Homo sapiens: one gene and its partners. The protein of the gene in region 3 purifies or fractionates together with the protein of the main gene of each other region. This does not show direct contact. Each region holds a gene or a part of one and is shown on either strand. Other genes may lie near its edges. The genes, in order: SMYD2, USP54, CELA1, HELZ and PRRC2A.

Region 1 (3,519 bases), on a different chromosome or scaffold from region 3:
TTTGGAGTTGTTTTCCAGAACTATAGAACCCACTAAGTGTCCACAAATACAAATGTTTTTGATTGAGTTAAAAAGTAGAATTCCTACCCTTAGGGAGTATACTATTGGCTCATAATTAAATGTGTCTTATTGGTGAGGTTTTAAGAGCATATGAGGCTATCACTGTGAACAGCAACTGTCACTGTACCATGGATTCACGGAATTGACAGAGAAGAGATTTTTCAGGTGGCAAATGAGCAAATGTTTCCTATCCAAACATCACCAGAGTAAGAAAAATCCCCATCTCATCAAAAATATGAGCCAGTACCTACATCCCTGAAGAGTCTTTCTTGGTACTCAGATTAAACAGAACACAGATTTCAACATAACTCCTTCCAAGTGCCAAGACATAAAATCCTTGAGCTTTTTATTTGGCTCTAATAAAAACCTGTATCTTTTTGGACAGCCAGATTATCTTACCACGTCCCTCCCCCAAGATACATTCAGGTCTTCAAGCCCTGTGTGAATTTCACTTCTCTAGGGAGTTGTCCTTGTTTCTCCTCTCCTCCATGGTGACTCCGCGTCCCCTGGGCACCAACACACCCTGAGCATCACAGTGCACTCACTAAGACACAACAGTGTCTTTGTTATTATAGCACGCATTCATTTTTATCTCTAGGGACTATAAACTTGCCAAAGATAAGCACTTATGAATTCTCAGATCCACTTTTTCTATAAAAGCTAACCCAATCCATTTTAATAACATACATACAATATTTCCACTTAGTCATCCGAAACCTTCCACTTCATGTACAAGAGTCGCTAGATTTTATGTTAATAAATTAACACAAGGAGTTCCACGCTATTTTTAAATTTTTGATTGAAAAAGAATCTGAGAGACACAGCTGGATTCTCAGCGAATGTACGGACTAGAAAGATAAGTTGTTTCCTGAACCTTCAAGACTTTTTTGTATTATTTTCCTGCTAAATTGCATATTTCTGTCCTTCAGAGAAGTCTTGAAGAGATCTGATTTCCTTCTGTTCTATTGTGTTGGTGTGAACGCCTTTGCAATTGAATAGGAAGCCGCGGAGGGTGGCAGGAACAAGTCAGCAGAAGTTACACAAAGTGAGGTGTGTGCTTTGTGACTGGTTAGAGCTCTAATGAGGCCAAGGTCATGGGTTCAACCCCTGAAAAGGCAGGTACTTCAGTTAATTCCCTGCCAAAGGACTGCACCCCTAAACTACTGCAGATTTCCTAGAAATCCAAAGAAGTGAAGGTTGGGGATGTGGGTGGGCTAACAATGCAAGTTCCTGAGAGGCAAAGGAGACCTCAAAATGCCCTGCCTCCCTCAAGTGTCAGAACAGGCCACTCATCAGGAGGAAGGGGCCAGTGCAGGGGCCCCTGCCCTGACACAGCCACAGAAAAACGCTGAGTGAGCAGGAGGATCAGAAGAGAGCTCAAGGTCTGAATCTGCCAAGTAAAATCAGGGTGCCTTGTTCTAGGTGTGTCTAGTTCCCTAGTGATCATCAGGACACACATACACATGTATTCAAAGATACGTAACCAAACCCATAGAGGAGCTGTCTGTGAGAAGAGCAGGAAATGAGAGGGAACATTCTGAAAAATCAAATTTGCCTTGCATATACCAGATAAAAGCATGCCTTGAACTCAGAAGTATGATTACCTCAACTACATCTGAGGTCCAAAAAAAGATGTGTGTGGATGGGGGGAGTCAATTTAATTATTCATGACTCCAGGAAGACAAAGCATGCTTTTAATTATTGATTGCTTCCTTCGAGGACAGAAATAAAGTGGCATAAAACAGTAATTATTTCATATTTTTATACTGACAGGGAAAAGAGGAGGGAATATTAACCTAAGTTCAAAGCAGTAAGCCTAAAACACCCAAATACAGTAGAAACTTCCTTTGCAATTCTCTCACTATATCAAATCCTAAAAGAGACAATTTTGCTGTCCTGAATTCTCACCAATTCTGAGTTCTCCCAAAGACCAGGTTCCTGCCAAACTATAGCAGTGAGCCCTGGATCTTCTCAAAGAAATTTAACATATTTTTACAAGAACCTTCTCACAGGTGGTGTGCAACTTGCCTGTTCTACAGGAATACCAACCAGGGGCTGCCTCCTATAGCTGCACCATAAATTCCATTTCCACAACTCAAGAGATTTAACTTCTGCAGAGAGAGATCCTGAAGAATGGATTTGCTTAAGGAAAAAAAAAAAAAAAAGACTATGGGCTGATGCTGCCCTATCACACGGCACAGAAACAAACTCTTTATATGTAGGTATAAAGGCTGAGATGACTAACTCTGGTTTAGTCCTAGCGTAATATTAAAAATATTCCAAGCCTACAAAAGGACCAAAGCCTCATGTTCTTTTTATGTTTTATTACATAATAATTCATACATATAAAAGAATATGTGTAGCTCTTATGCAAATTTCAAAGCATTATAATAAAAACAACATGTTTAAGTCCATATCAGCATAAAATATAGATCTAAGATGGCTGAATCAAACATTTTTTAAAACTTTAAATAATTCTTTAAACAATGCATTCGTTTGTTAAATTGTTGGCCAATTATAAATTCTATTCAATCAAGGAGATATCAGAGACGGATTAAGCCCCCAGTCTCCAGGGAACCACACAGTAGTAATGTAGGGTGAAGTCCCTGGGTGAACCACACAGTAGGTTCAGGCCAAAGGGGGGCACAGGAAGATCACACGAGGAACAGGGAGATTTGGCTCCATCCTTGAAGGTCATGGAGTCCGGCCTTTAAGAGGCACTCAATAAATATTTGACAAAAAAGGTGTGAAATTCAGAGAAACCACTTAACTTCTCTAACACTCAGTTTCTTTCTATGTAAAATGGAATAAGGCCCTGTGTATACCAGCCATCCTTGGAAGGATCAAAATAAGAATGTATCTGGAAATGCTTTATGGGCTGCAAAGAGCAATATGATTTAAAGAAATGCCATTTTATACAGGTTCTTCGAATTTTTTTTGATTGAGAGGATTCTGTGCAATTGCTTCGGGAGGGAAAGGTGTTAGATGGTGGTTTTAACTCACCAGGGTTTGAATTTCACTTCAGGATATCCTGCTGTTATTCTGTCTCTTTCATCTGAAATCGGTTCCAAACGTGCAGCTTGGTCACTGAGCCCCTATAAGCTATAACAGAAATTATGTTCCCCGCATATGAAAAATAACGTGAGTTACTGGCACATTTGAAGTCTTAAAGGATGGCTCCTTGCTGCTGTTGAAACAATTGTGCTGAAAGTAAAAGGCAGAAGGAACCCTGATATCCTTGCAATGTGGAAAATTCTGTTTTCTTCCATTTCTCTCTATAAATATTTGTTTTTTCTTATTAAAAGAATATTAAAGTGCCTAAGACTTTGGAGTGAGAAAAGGCTCTTTTTTGAAGAAGGTTTACCTGTGTAGGTATATTATATTATTTCCATTAGGTTTTGAAAAATACTGAAAACTAATCCCAGACCCCATCATTAATTCTGGGGAACCCAAGGTTGA
Region 2 (3,519 bases), on a different chromosome or scaffold from region 3:
TTGGGGAAACATCTCAGTGACTAATAGAACAAAATCCAGATTATAAAAACATATTTGAAATGGTTAATTTCTGTGTATTCCCATGAGCCCAAATCACCCTGTATTTTGTAAATGTGGCCTCATAGTTCCTTTGGCCGGGCTGCCTCTCAGGACCCCAGGTAGGACTTGCCTCCCTGTATAGCATCCTGGATTTTTGCTGTTTGGTATGAGTGATTTTCAGGCTTTGCTTACCTTCCATGTCATCTGCATGTGAGACTAGCTGATTTTGTTTCCTAATTTGCAAGTAGAATGTGATTGGAATGCGACTTCACAGGTAGTGAAGAATATTGGCAAGGGCTCCACTTAATGTTACTGTGCAACTTTGGTGAGGGTGTTTAATAAAGAGGATTAACGTTACCTATTTACCTGAGTGTGAGCTGACCATGTGCCTTTTCTTTTGTGATCCTCTGAACTACTGACTCTACTTGTGCTTGTCTTTCTGTTTATTTTTACCATTCCCTGTGTGAATAGCTAGAAATGGGAATGGAATGTTGAGTTCTTTCTGTAAGTGTTCCTGTCAGTCAAGGCAGCTTATGACTAGCTCTCTCCATTTGTTTCAGTGAACAGCCTATCCCGCTCCAAGTATTGTTAAGCCAAGAGGCCCAACTGGAATCCGGCATGGATACAGAGTTTGGGGCCAGTTCTTTCTTCCATTCACCTGCTTCCTGCCATGAGTCACACTCATCACTATCTCCAGAGTCATCTGCCCCACAGCACAGCTCCCCCAGTAGATCTGCCTTGAAGCTTCTGACTTCGGTTGAAGTAGACAACATTGAACCCTCTGCATTCCACAGGCAAGGTTTACCTAAAGCACCAGGGTGGACTGAGAAGAATTCTCATCATAGTTGGGAGCCATTGGATGCCCCAGAGGGTAAGCTGCAAGGCTCTAGGTGTGACAACAGCAGTTGCAGCAAGCTCCCTCCACAAGAAGGAAGAGGCATTGCTCAAGAACAGCTGTTCCAAGAAAAGAAGGATCCTGCTAACCCCTCCCCGGTGATGCCTGGAATAGCCACCTCTGAGAGGGGTGATGAACACAGCCTAGGCTGTAGTCCTTCAAATTCATCAGCTCAGCCCAGCCTTCCCCTGTATAGAACCTGCCACCCCATAATGCCTGTTGCTTCTTCATTTGTGCTTCACTGTCCTGATCCTGTGCAGAAAACTAACCAATGCCTCCAAGGCCAAAGCCTCAAAACTTCATTGACTTTAAAAGTGGACAGAGGCAGTGAGGAGACCTATAGGCCAGAGTTTCCCAGCACAAAGGGGCTTGTCCGTTCTCTGGCTGAGCAGTTCCAGAGGATGCAGGGTGTCTCCATGAGGGATAGTACAGGTTTCAAGGATAGAAGTTTGTCAGGTAGTCTAAGGAAGAACTCTTCCCCTTCTGATTCTAAGCCTCCTTTCTCACAGGGTCAAGAGAAAGGCCACTGGCCATGGGCAAAGCAACAATCCTCTCTGGAGGGTGGGGATAGACCACTTTCCTGGGAAGAGTCCACTGAACATTCTTCTCTTGCCTTAAACTCTGGGCTGCCTAATGGTGAAACTTCTAGCGGAGGACAGCCCAGGTTGGCAGAGCCAGACATATACCAAGAGAAGCTGTCCCAAGTGAGAGATGTTAGGTCTAAGGATCTGGGCAGCAGTACTGACTTGGGGACTTCCTTGCCTTTGGATTCCTGGGTGAATATCACAAGGTTCTGTGATTCTCAGCTTAAGCATGGGGCACCTAGGCCAGGAATGAAGTCCTCCCCTCATGATTCCCATACGTGTGTAACCTATCCAGAGAGAAATCACATCCTTTTGCATCCACATTGGAACCAAGACACAGAGCAGGAGACCTCAGAATTGGAGTCTCTGTATCAGGCCAGTCTTCAGGCTTCTCAAGCTGGCTGTTCTGGATGGGGGCAGCAGGATACCGCCTGGCACCCACTTAGCCAAACAGGTAAGAATGCAACCAGGGGTTGGGGGGAGGGGGGAGGATCATATAAAAGCTGAAAGCAGGGAAAGATCAGAAGGGAGTGTTCTATACAGATACTATCCCCAGCTTAGTAGGAGGTAATAGAACTTTTGACTTTACTCAGAAAGCCTTCAGGACAAGACCTAGACATTTTTCTGGCTAGAGTGGAGGAAGGGGCAGAATTACCACTCATAGGCAACTTCCCTCCTTCTAAAGTAAGAGATTACTAAGTATTTGCCCATGGCTTCTCCAGTATGCTGTGCTAAAGAATGGTTCAGGGCCGGGCACGGTGGCTCACTCCTGTAATCCCAGCACTTTGGGAGGTCGAGGCGGGCAGATCACAAGGTCAGGAGATCGAGACCATCCTGGCCAACATAGTGAAACCCCTTCTCTACTAAAAATACAGAAAATTAGCCGGGCGTGGTGGTACTTGCCTGTAGTCCCAGCTACTCGGGAGGCTGAGGCAGGGAAATCACTTGAATTCGGGAGGCAGAGGTTACAGTGAGCTGAGATCGCACCACTGCACTCCAACCTGGGTAACAGAATGAGACTCCGTTTCAAAAAAAAAAAAAAAAAAAGAATGGTTCATAGGTGTTTGAGAGTGATTCAGCATGACAGCATGAAATGGAGGGAGGCTGAGAGGAAAATATATTCTTCTATGGCTTAGAATCCCAAGATTCAGCCTCCAGGTCTGCTTTGCAGTAGGATGTCCATATGCTCAGTGTGGACATTTCCAGATCATACTGAACCAGCAATATCAAGACCTTCCTGATCCCTTTAGGAAAAGTCAAGTTTGGTGTTCAAGGAATTTTTAATGTACTATATGCCTACAGGGTAGCCACTGACTGAGATAATACAGAGTGAAGAGTAGAGCCTGCACCTGAAGTGCACATCATAGTCAGTTCTGGAAATTGAAGACATGAAGAATGTTTGTAACTTACATTGATGCACTTAACTCCAAAGCCTGAACTATTTTCCTGATTCCAACATTAACTCTCAGTATAAATTTGGACAAGTCACTTAATATCCCAGGGCCAAGGTTTTACCTGTAAAATGAGAGAACTGGCTTTTTTTTTAAAAAAAGATATGTTCTAACTCTAAAATGGCATGTATGATTCTGTGAAATTGAACTTGGAGAACTTTTCCTTAGCTTGGCTGTGACAGTTTCTGTAATGGTGCAGGTTCCTTGCATGCTGACAACCAACATATAATTACAGTTGAGTAAGTGTTTATTGAGTACTTACTGTGTTCTCCAGAGCCTTTGAGGGGAATACCACATAAATATAAGATTTGATTTTTTATTCATTTTTTTTTTTTTCTGAGAAGAGTTGCACTCCTGTTGCCCAGGCTGGAGTGCAATGGCGTGATCTCAGCTCACTGCAACCTCCGCCTCCCGGGTTCAAGTGATTCTCCTGCCTCAGCCTCCCAAGTAGCTGAGATTACAGGCGTCCACCACCACACCTGGCTAACTCTTGTATTTTTAGTAGAGACAGGGTTTCACCACGTTGGCCAGGCTGGTCTTGAACTCCTGA
Region 3 (3,519 bases):
GCTTGAACCTAGGAGGCGGAAGTGGCAGTGAGCTGAGATCATGCCATTACACTCCAGCCTGGGCAACAAGAGCGAAACTCAGTCTCAAAAAAAAAAAAAAATTAACGGGGAGTGGGGCTACACATCTATACTCCCAGCTACTCAGGCGGCTGAGGCAGGAGAATCACCTGAACCTGGGAGGTGGTGGTTGCAGTGAGCCGAAATGGCACTACTGCACTCCAGCCTGGACGACAGAGCGAGACTCCATCTCAAAACAAACACACACAGAATTATCCCAGTTTGAAATTTTGGTCTCTTTCCCTAGTTTTTTTTAAGTTTTACTTTTGTTTGTTTGTTTTTGAGACAGAGTCTTGCTCTGTTGCCCAGGCTGGAGTACGGTAGCGTGATCTCAGCTCACTGCAACCTCCTCCTCCTGGGTTCTTGTGCCTCAGCCTCCTCAGTAGCTGGGATGACAGGCATGAGCCACCATACCTGGCTAATTTTTTTTGTATTTTTAGTAGAGTCGGGGTTTCGCTATGTTGGCCAGGCTGGTCTCAAACTCCTGGCGTCACGTGATCCACCCACCTCGGCTTCCCAAAGTGCTGGGATTACAGGTGTAAGCCACCACACCTGGCCCCAAGTTTTACTTTTTATTGAAGCTTAAATTGGCAAATAAGATTATGGGGCTCAATAATGGAAAAGAATAGCTACTCTAGTTCTCCCACCCCATGGGAGGCCACTTTCAACTCTTCAGCTGATTCTTTTGGTGTCTACATCTTTAAAATTATATACTTACACTGCTATTTTTGTGTTGACATTATGGCAGATGTGATTCTCTTTATTTTTTATATATACATACCTGCCCTCCAAGCATGACATTTTCTGATCACCATCTCAACCTCTCAAAATATTTTGGTTAGATCAACATTCGGCATTTACTATGATTATATAAAATGCTATTTACAACAAAATCATGTAATATATTCTAGGTTTACTTTTCATTTGCTGCATAACTTTTTTTTTTTTTTTTTAAAGAGACAGGATCTTACTCTGTCACCCAGGCTGGAGTGCAGTAGCACAATCACAGCTCACTGCAGCCTTGAATTTCTGGGCTCAAGAAATCCTCCCACCTCAATCTCCTGAGTAGCCAGGACTACAGGCACATGCCACCACACTCAGCTGATTTTTTAAAATTTTAATAGAGATGGGGGTCTCGGTTTGTACCCCAGGCTGGTCTCAAACTCCTGGCTTTAGCTTAAGCAGTCCTCCTGCCTCAGCCTCCCAAAGTGCTGGGATTACAGTCATAAACCACCAAGGTCAGCCCTTGCTGCACAACTTTTTCAATTTTTTCAATGTCTGTTAAAAATTGTCTTTTTCATTTGCTTAATATAGTCAGTTTTTCATTAATTCAACCCCACACACTCCACTAATTTGTTAAGTGACCTATATCATCTTCTCTTGACCTAGTGGTCTATGTGGATCTATTTGCATTCGTTGTGAGGGATACTTAATGGGTGGGTTTTCCCGGAAACTCCAGACCTTTGATCCAGAAAATGTTGTTTATTTGTTGATTTCCTCCCACTCTATTTTCACTTTTCTCTTTCTAGAATTTCTGTTATTCACATGTTTGCCTCCTAAGCTGGTCCTCTTGTTTTCTCTATATCTTGTTTGTTCTATCTTATGTTCCAACTCTTCCAGTCTCTCATTTCTAAATCTATCAAATCTGTAATTTCCAAAGGCTCTTTTTGCTGTCTGAATGTTGTTTAGTAGTATGCCGTTCTTGTATCATGGATGCATATTAGTCATGTTTTTTGTTTGTGTGTTTGTTTTGAGACGGAGTCTCGCTCTGTCGCCCAGGCTGAAGTGCAGTGGTGCAATCTCAGCTCACTACAACCTCCAGCTCCTGGGTTCAAGCGATTCTCCTGCCTCAGCCTCCTGAGTAACTGGGATTACAGGCATGTACCACCACGCCCGGCTAATTTTTGTATTTTTAATAGAGTTTTAGGGGTTTCACTGTGTTGGCCTAGTCTTGAACTCCTGACCTCAGGTGATCCGCCCGCCTCAGCCTCCCAAAGTGCTGGGATTACAGGTGTGGAGCCACCATGCCCAGCCTATTAGTTATGGTTTTATTGCTTGTTTTCTTCTCCCTGCATAGTCTTGGTTGCCTTCATTTTTTTATTTAGCTCCTTGTTTCTTTGTTTCAATCTTTATTTTTATATTAGATGAATTCCTTTTTTTTTTTTTTTTTTGAGACAGAGTCTCACTCTGTCGCCCAGGCTGGAGCCCAGTGGCGCCATCTTGGCTCACTGCAAGCTCTGCCTCCCGGGTTCACGCCATTCTCCTGCCTCAGCCTCCCGAGTAGCTGGGACTACAGGCGCCCACCACCACGCCCGGCTAATTTTTTGTATTTTTAGTAGAGATGGGGTTTCACCGTGTTAGCCAGGATGGTCTCGATCTCCTGACCTCGTGATCCGCCCGCCTCAGCCTCCCAAAGTGCTGGGATTACAGGCATGAGTCACTGGGCCCGGCTAGAGGCATTCTTTAGATGTTTAGTGATCCTTAACCATCTGCTTTTATTTCAGAGTGGGGGTGGTATTTTTACCCAGAGTGGGTGGGCTGATTGGTAGCTCTGAGCCTTAGATGGGGTTCATCAATAGTGGATTCTCTGTCAGGTGATCTGGCTAGGCCATTTTAGTGGAGGACCTCCAATGTCAGTATCTTTAGGTCTTTCCTCTTGGACTGTTCAGTTTTTCCAGAGAAGTATCTTCCCATTTTATGTGTGGCATTATGGACCTGGCATTCTAGAAGCTGAGTAAGAAGGGAGGCAAGATCATATTCCATAAACCCAGGTTCCCAGTTGAGCATGTGACCTAATACATCACTTTCCTCTTCATTCCAGTTTAGTTTAGCATGTTTTGACTACCAAGTCTAAATACTTGGTCTAATTATACCCATTGGTCTAAATGCTGGGGATAAAGAAATTATTAGAATGCCCTATTTTTGCCACCCCAGGTTCAATTTAAGCCAATAAAAGCGATTGAACTTTAGATATTTAAAGTTCTATGCTAGCATTGTGGAGAGGAAAGATCTTGGTAAGAGTTTTTGTCTCAGGAAGCTCATAGACATGTGTGAGGAGGTACAAACAAATTATGAAACCAAAATACAAGGCAGAACATGAAATAAGTGCAGCAAAAGAGAAGAAGTATTGTGGTTGTTTAGAAAGGAAGAAGAGATTCATTTTGATTGTGGGGACATGAAGGAGGTGGAGATTTGCATTGGAGCTTTAAAACCGTACAGAATTTCACAACCAGAGACGGGGGCGGGGGGAGTGCAAGCAAAAGCCCGAAGATCTGGAGTTTTAGGATTCTGTTTCTCCTCCCTGCAGGGTGACTCTGGGGGCCCCCTCCATTGCTTGGTGAATGGCAAGTATTCTGTCCATGGAGTGACCAGCTTTGTGTCCAGCCGGGGCTGTAATGTCTCCAGGAAGCCTACAGTCTTCACCCAGGTCTCTGCTTACATCTCCTGGATAAATAATGTGAG
Region 4 (3,519 bases), on a different chromosome or scaffold from region 3:
AACTACTGTTCATTATAATCTGAAAGACTGTCAGATGTGTGCCAAATTTTTGTAAAGTATGGTTCCAAAATTCTAGATCCTCACAATACATATATGTAGATACCAATTCATCTTTATTGTGCTTCTAACTTACTTTAAGAGCCTAAAATCACAGTAAGTTGTTTTAATGACAGCTATACAGAATGAGCCAATCAATGAATACTGGGACAATTTGAACAGACTGCCTCTAAATCCCTACAAATAAGACATACAGCTTTCCCTATGAATCTTGACTTTTAATTAGCATCTATAGCAGGCAACTTGTAAAATGTGAATCAATTATTTCTAATGGCCTTTAGATATCATTCTGAAACTGCCAAAATGAAGCTAATATCAAAAAAGTATTTTTCATATATCAAAATTAGAAATCTTTATCCTGATTTAAGATGTCTCTGTCTGATATGACTACAACCGGCTTTACACATTTTTATCTTTAATCACTGCAAATTTAATGGGATCAGCTAGACATTTTTGTAGCCTACACCACATGGTACTGCTTTGGAAGTTTTATAACCTGGAATTACTAAGTTTTTCATAGGAAAAAAAAGTCCATAAAGATGCTCTTTAGAAATATCTAAGTATTTTACTTTATTTATTTATTTTTTTTTTTGAGACAGAGTCTTGCTCTGTCGCCCACGCTGGAGTGCAGTGGCATATCTTGGCTCACTGCAAGCTCAGCCTCCCGGGTTCACGCCATTCTCCTGCCTCAGCCTCCCGAGTAGCTGGGACTACAGGCGCCCGCCACCACGCCCAGCTAATTTTTTCTATTTTTAGTAGAGACGGGGTTTCACCGTGTTAGCCAGGATGGTCTCGATCTCCTGACCTCGTGATCTGCCCGCCTCGGCCTCCCCAAGTGCTGGGATTACAAGCGTGAGCCACTGCACCCGGCAGAAATATCTAAGTATTTTAAGATAAAATTCAGTTTAACTTAAAATGCTTAGTTTAGCACAGTCAATTTTATGTTAAAAATCTGCAAATTCTGATATTTGGGAATCAGAGTCCCTGGGTCTAACAAAGCACCAGGCTGAGTGGCAGGAGAAGGAGCACAGCACTTGGAGCTGGCACTGGCTGAAAAGCCAGCATCTTTGGAAAGTTCTCATTAACAAATTTATAATTAACACATGTAACTTAAAGCGAAAAGAAGAATCACTAAAAGCCATTTCCTCAGATTAAAAAAAGACAAAGCTCCTTGAATAGAGTCCTCAGATATTCAATATTTTCTTTAAACAGCAATAAAAGACTTTTAAGGGGCTTCATGTTTCAACAAAAGTGTCCACTTTACAAAACCTGAAATACAATAGGAGGGTGGCAATTAAAATAATTCCCAAGAAAGGATTATCTTTAATACGCTGTTAAATTCAATAAGATCTGTGCCTTCCTATTATCAAATCAATAAATACTGATATTTTTCACAATCAGCTAATAACAAAAGGAAAATAAGAAGACATTTACCTCTTCTAAGCTAGGGAGCGAAGAAGAAGATACTGTTCGAGATGACAATGGGTGAAATGGCTCTTGACCAATAGCATGTTGATGATTCTGTATTTGTACAAAAGGGTTCTGCGGTGGCCTGTGAGGCAATGGAGGTAGGCCATAGGGAAAACCTGGCCCCATTAGGTGATTCTGTTGCAAGTTAGCAAAAGTCCATGCTCCATCAGGTGCCAGGTATTTCAAGGGAGGAGGGGCAAGGTGTTCAGATGGCAACGAGAAAGGTGAGTTGAATATCTGGGGTGGGAGGCGCTGTGGAAATGCTGGGTTGCTGGCTACTTCAATGTCTCTGCTGTTATCATTAAAGTTAGAAAAGTGGCTACTGTGGTCTGTACTGGATGGGGGAGATGGGACTGCTGGTGGGCTTCTACTCTGTACTTGTCTATATTGCAAAAGTCTTGATTGAGGTGGTGGCATTTCAGCTAGTTCCCGTGTTTCACTTTGATCACGATGAGACAGTTCTCTGATTAAGTCTTGAAACCTACATGAAAACAATAAAATATGAGGAGAAAACAAAAGGCTCCATCACATTAAGGAAAGCTTAGTCAACTACACATGTATTTTCAACAAACAAAATCATAGTACTAATAACTAGAACTGGCATTAATTCATCTCAGATGTAAGCATTAACACTCAATAGATGCTGAGGTGAAGAAATTAAATATGCTCAATTACCTGATTTCTTTCTGTTCCCATTGTATTAAAAACATCTGTCCTTGTCTCTATACAGCTTTGACAACTGGAAGTTATAAAAGGTCACCATGATGGTGGACCTTATTCAGAAGGGATTAGGAAACACTTCAGAGCATTCATGTGACACTGGCCACAAAAACAAGCTTAGAGTTAGGACCAAATACTCATATGTAGCTGGAATTATAGGAATGTAGAATTCTGTGCCACCATAAAAATAATTAATGATATAATTTTTAGCTTTTAACCACGAATTTACTCCTGTCTTTATTCATTCTTTGCAAGTATTACTACTAAATAAAAAAAGCTGCTCACAGTGATGGTATGTTTCTCTCGCAGAAAAGACCACAAAGTAAGGGAACAAGTTAATTTCCAACCCATAGTAGATCATCCATGCCTAAATTTGTAGAAGAGTTACTTCTAAATGAGTTTTCTGTATTTTAGAGTCAACAAGAGAACTGTGTAGCGTGTGCTTGGAAGGCCAGCATCCAATTTCTCTGAGGCAATATTCCAGCTTGAAGCTAAAAGGACTACAGTCAAAAAAGAGAACAGTGAGGGGGTCGCATTCCAGGGGCTATTTTCAGTCCGCTGGAATACCTTGAGTATGTGGTCTCCACTTCATCTTCGGCACTGCTGGTGAGCTTCCAGTCTGCCCTCACTGGCGGCTGATGTAATCCCAGGGGCGGCTGAGGAAGATGCTGGAGGTGAGGATGGTGATGGTGTGGGTATGGAGCGCTGCCCTGACTGAGAAAGGCATGATGCTCGCTCCACTGCTGGAACCGTGCCTGCTGCTGCCTTAATGTTTCCAGAGCGACACTCCCATGTATACGATCTGCAAAAATATTTGTGAAAAATTTTTTATGAATTTGGGGTTTCAAGTTCATTATTTAAAGTTTTTTACTAACATATTTTCTCCACAAAGACAAAGGACGTAGCTACAAATTTGGTTTTGGTAAGAAGTAAATGTTTTCTAAATTTGCCAGAAATCAGTTATGGTGATGATGATGACAACTCTTCCTCACTTACATAATGATGATCCTGACATCCACTGGATACTATCATACAGCATTTAGAACTAGTTTCTGATTATCACACTAAATGGGGGGGTTTTGCTAGCATTATTTGAAGAAACAATTCAATCTTAACCCAAAATGATATTATACAGTCCAAGTCATGTTAAGTAATCTCTGAATTTTCACATCTGGCAGTAATAGAACTTACCTAAAGCCTCCCCTATAGGTAATCCCGAGGGGTTCTCATCAATGAAGCTATTCAGATGTGAAGGAAGAATGGGGCCGGGTT
Region 5 (3,519 bases), on a different chromosome or scaffold from region 3:
TCCTACCCAGGCCAACTTTGGATCCACCGGTGGAGTGCCCCGTTCCCGTAACATAGCAGGTGCATGACGGTCAAATGGCTCTGAGCTTGAGCCCCCACTGTCTGAACGCTCTCGGGGAACTAGGCCTGAAGAAACCAAAGAAAAAGAAAAATAATCCTATTCATGTCACAAGCCCTCCAGCCCAAAAAGCATCTCCCCTCGCGGTCAAGTCAGCTCTTCCATCTCTTGTTCCCAGTAGGTCCGGGCCTTGCCTGCTCTTATATAACAAGGTTATCCACTCAGATTCCCTACAAGAGAATCAACCCACCCCAAATAAATCCTGGCAAATGAAGGACCACTGCTTCTTTCATTCATTCATTCATTTTTGAGATGGAGTTGTGCTATTCATTCATTCATTTTTGAGACGGAGTTTCGCTCGTTGCCTAAGCTGGAGTGCGATGGCACAATCTCGGCTCACTACAACCTCCACCTCCTGGGTTCAAGCGTTTCTCCTGCCTCAGTCTCCCGAGTAGCTGGGACTACAGGCGAGCGCCACCACGCCGGCTACTTTTTTGTATTTTTAGTAGAAATGGGGTTTTACCACGTTAGCCATGGTGGTCTCGAACTCCTGAACTCAGTTGATCTGCCCACCTCGGCCTCCCTAAGTGCTGGGATTACAGGCGTGAGCCACAATGCCTGGCCAACCACTGCTTATTTCTTAACTAAGCCCATTTTTGCAACAGAGCTATCTCAGCAGTGCCAAGCATATGCCCTTCCCTCATCACTATGATGGGCAAAACCTATCGTACCAGAGTCACAGTAAGACCCTAATATCCAATGCCTAAGACTGAGGGGACTTTCCTGTTTCTCACTCCTCCCATGCCCCCTTACCAGAGGGATGCACACCAGGAGGGTAGAAGTCTAGAGGGGGACGACCCTGGAGGAGCCGGGGGTCCACATAAGGAGGAATCATCATCCATCGGGGATCAAAGTTCATTGGGGGCATGGGTGGGGGCCGGCCCAGAGCACCTGGGTACAGGGCCTTGGGGGGCGGGGGTGGAGCCTGTGGAGCTGGCACAGCCCCCAGGGTCACAGGCTGTGGTGGTGATGGGGGCACTGGGGTAGGAGGGGCAGAGCCCTGTTGATGCTGCTGCCACTGGTGCTGCTGCTGCTGCTTCAGGAGCTGCTCCTAGGAAAGGAGGAAAGACAAGATGAGAGAGGCTCAAAGCACACATGGACAAAGGAATCAGCAAAGAAAAAACTTGGACTAGGGGAAATTGGCGTGACAATGGAGACAACTGGACAAAGAAGCAAAGGGACCCAGAAGGTAACTTATGAAGAGAATTAGGGACCGAAGCCAGGAAGAAAAGCAGCCCTTAGAGGGTAAACAACTTGATTTCACCTGCTGCTGCCGCTGGAAACGAGGAGGCAACGACTTCTGATATTTGGGGTAGCCCAAGCCCTGACTAGGGGGCTGGCGGGTGGGACCAATCCCATCACCCTTGGGTTCCACCTTTGGAACTGGGGGTGTGGTAGGAGGAGGAACCTCTTCTGGTGGTTCAGGACCCTCTTTTGAGGGCAGTTGTGGTTCCACTGCATCGGAAAAAACACAACAGAGTGATCTAGTCCAACAATAGACACTCCATGAACACCCCAGGAATCTCACGTCTCATCTCTAGCTCCCTTAAGACTAAAATATTCTATTCAACATCTATTCTATTGAAGCCCCTCCCATTTAAGACCCATTAAAGCACTTCATGGCCTCTCATGAGCCTATGGTGGTGGCATTAACTTTCTATGAAACCATTAGAACAACAGTACTTTCTTCAGTCTTGGCCTATAGGAAATAGTTTTCATTTTTATTTATGTATTTCTTGTGAGACAGGATTTTTTTTTGAGACAGAGTCTTGCTCTGTCACCCAGGCTGGAGTGCAATGGCATGGTCTTGGCTCACAGAAATCTCTGCCTCCCGGGTTAAAGCGATTCTACTACCTCAGCCTCCCAAGCAGCTGGGACTACAAGCACATGCCACCACACTTGGCTAATTTTTGTATTTTTAGTAGAGACGGGTTTCACTATGTTGGCCAGGCTGATCTTGAACTCCTGACCTCATGTTCTGCCCGCCTCGGCCTCCCAGAGTGCTGGGATTACAAGTGTGAGCCACCATGCCTGGCCGACAGGGTCTTGCTTTGTTGCCCAGGCTGGTCTCAAACTCCCTAGGCTCAAGCGATCCTCCACCCCAAGCCTCCCTAAGTGTTGGGATTATAGGCGTGAGCTACAGTACTCTGCCAAGAAATGGTATTAGACTACAACCTAAGATTCCAGACAAAACCTTCCCTCCTTCAGATATACAAATGATAGAACACTATCACTGATAGTCCAATAAACCAAAACAACTGCCTTCTACTTCATTTATCCCCAGCCTTACCACCCTGCACCTTTAAGCACCTTGAAGCAGTGATCTGACATCTGGTAGTACCTATCCCCATCTCCATACCTGGGCTGGCTTCGAAGCTGCCACTGCTGGTGCTACTGGTACTGCCACCACCACTCACCAGAGTGGGAGCCGCAGCCACACCTGGAGTAGGAGTAGATTGGGCAGGAGGGGCCTGTGCTGGCTCTTCAGGTTCTGTCTCTGGTGTTGGGGCTGATGCTGGAGGTGGAGCTGGAGGTGCAGGGAGTTCTTTAGGGACTGCAGGTGGTGGAGCTGGGGTAGAAGGGGCAGCAGGTGGGGCAGCAGGCTCTGCTTTGAGCCGCTTGTCAGGTGCCCCAAACTTTTCATCGAGTCGCTTGAGCTTCTCAGCACAGGCTGCCCGGCGCTCTTCTTGCATGCGCCGCTCCTCTTCTTCTCGCCGTCGCCGGGCCCGCTCCACTGCCAGGGAAATCTCAGATGACGACTGCTTTCGTCGCTGCCGCCATGCCTCATCCTCATCTTCAGGTGCTGGGGGCTTGCAGGGAGGACCCCCACGATCCTGTCAATTGGCAAGACCCAGCAGGGCCAGGGGAATCAGTTACTATGCTTTCTATCATCTCTTTTACAACAAATCAACTGTCGCTACTTGCAGGATGCAACGACCCAGGCTTTGGGGTTGATCTCTCTGGGTGGTGACAAACTCATTATCCTGGTCTTCTTTGAGACCACGTCTTGCTATGTTGCCCAGGCTGGTCTTGAACTTGGGCTCAAGTGATCCTTCTGCTTCAGCCTGCTGAGTAGCTTGGACTACTGATGCATACTAACAGATCCAGCTATCTAGCCACCCTAGTCTTTTTATTTTTCTGTTCCCTCTCTCCTTCCGAAACCCAAACACCCAGGGCTCCTTTTTCTTCTTTCCTCATTAGCATCCCAGTTTCTCACTTCTTACCCAGACTCCCCTATTACCAAAGATATTTAAAAGCTTCCCAGGATGTTCTGCAGCCTGGCACTTCACACAGCCCATTTTTAGCACCCCCCTTCCTCTATATCACAACCGCTTCAATTACTCAGCTGACACCAATTTCCCACAGCTGACCCTCTCAATCCCTTATTGGAGACACTCACTG

The links.
Region 1: the proteins of CELA1 (region 3) and SMYD2 purify together in Homo sapiens (affinity purification with mass spectrometry; 2 studies listed by BioGRID and IntAct, with this or other methods). This does not show direct contact.
Region 2: the proteins of CELA1 (region 3) and USP54 purify together in Homo sapiens (affinity purification with mass spectrometry; 2 studies listed by BioGRID and IntAct, with this or other methods). This does not show direct contact.
Region 4: the proteins of CELA1 (region 3) and HELZ purify together in Homo sapiens (affinity purification with mass spectrometry; 2 studies listed by BioGRID and IntAct, with this or other methods). This does not show direct contact.
Region 5: the proteins of CELA1 (region 3) and PRRC2A purify together in Homo sapiens (affinity purification with mass spectrometry; one large-scale study listed by BioGRID and IntAct). This does not show direct contact.

What each region holds. Positions count from the first base shown.
Region 1 is NC_000001.11:214,287,645-214,291,163, reverse strand, and holds part of SMYD2 (N-lysine methyltransferase SMYD2), read right to left. Parts: intron 1-3,519. UniProt on the Homo sapiens protein: Protein-lysine N-methyltransferase that methylates both histones and non-histone proteins, including p53/TP53 and RB1. Specifically trimethylates histone H3 'Lys-4' (H3K4me3) in vivo. The activity requires interaction with HSP90alpha.
Region 2 is NC_000010.11:73,514,828-73,518,346, reverse strand, and holds part of USP54 (ubiquitin carboxyl-terminal hydrolase 54), read left to right. Parts: intron 1-599; coding exon 600-1,972; intron 1,973-3,519.
Region 3 is NC_000012.12:51,329,679-51,333,197, reverse strand, and holds part of CELA1 (chymotrypsin-like elastase family member 1), read left to right. Parts: intron 1-3,364; coding exon 3,365-3,514; intron 3,515-3,519. UniProt on the Homo sapiens protein: Serine proteases that hydrolyze many proteins in addition to elastin.
Region 4 is NC_000017.11:67,105,678-67,109,196, forward strand, and holds part of HELZ (probable helicase with zinc finger domain), read right to left. Parts: coding exon 3,439-3,519; intron 3,050-3,438; coding exon 2,815-3,049; intron 2,009-2,814; coding exon 1,492-2,008; intron 1-1,491. UniProt on the Homo sapiens protein: May act as a helicase that plays a role in RNA metabolism in multiple tissues and organs within the developing embryo.
Region 5 is NC_000006.12:31,627,197-31,630,715, reverse strand, and holds part of PRRC2A (protein PRRC2A), read right to left. Parts: coding exon 3,518-3,519; intron 2,952-3,517; coding exon 2,477-2,951; intron 1,573-2,476; coding exon 1,382-1,572; intron 1,169-1,381; coding exon 871-1,168; intron 126-870; coding exon 1-125. UniProt on the Homo sapiens protein: May play a role in the regulation of pre-mRNA splicing.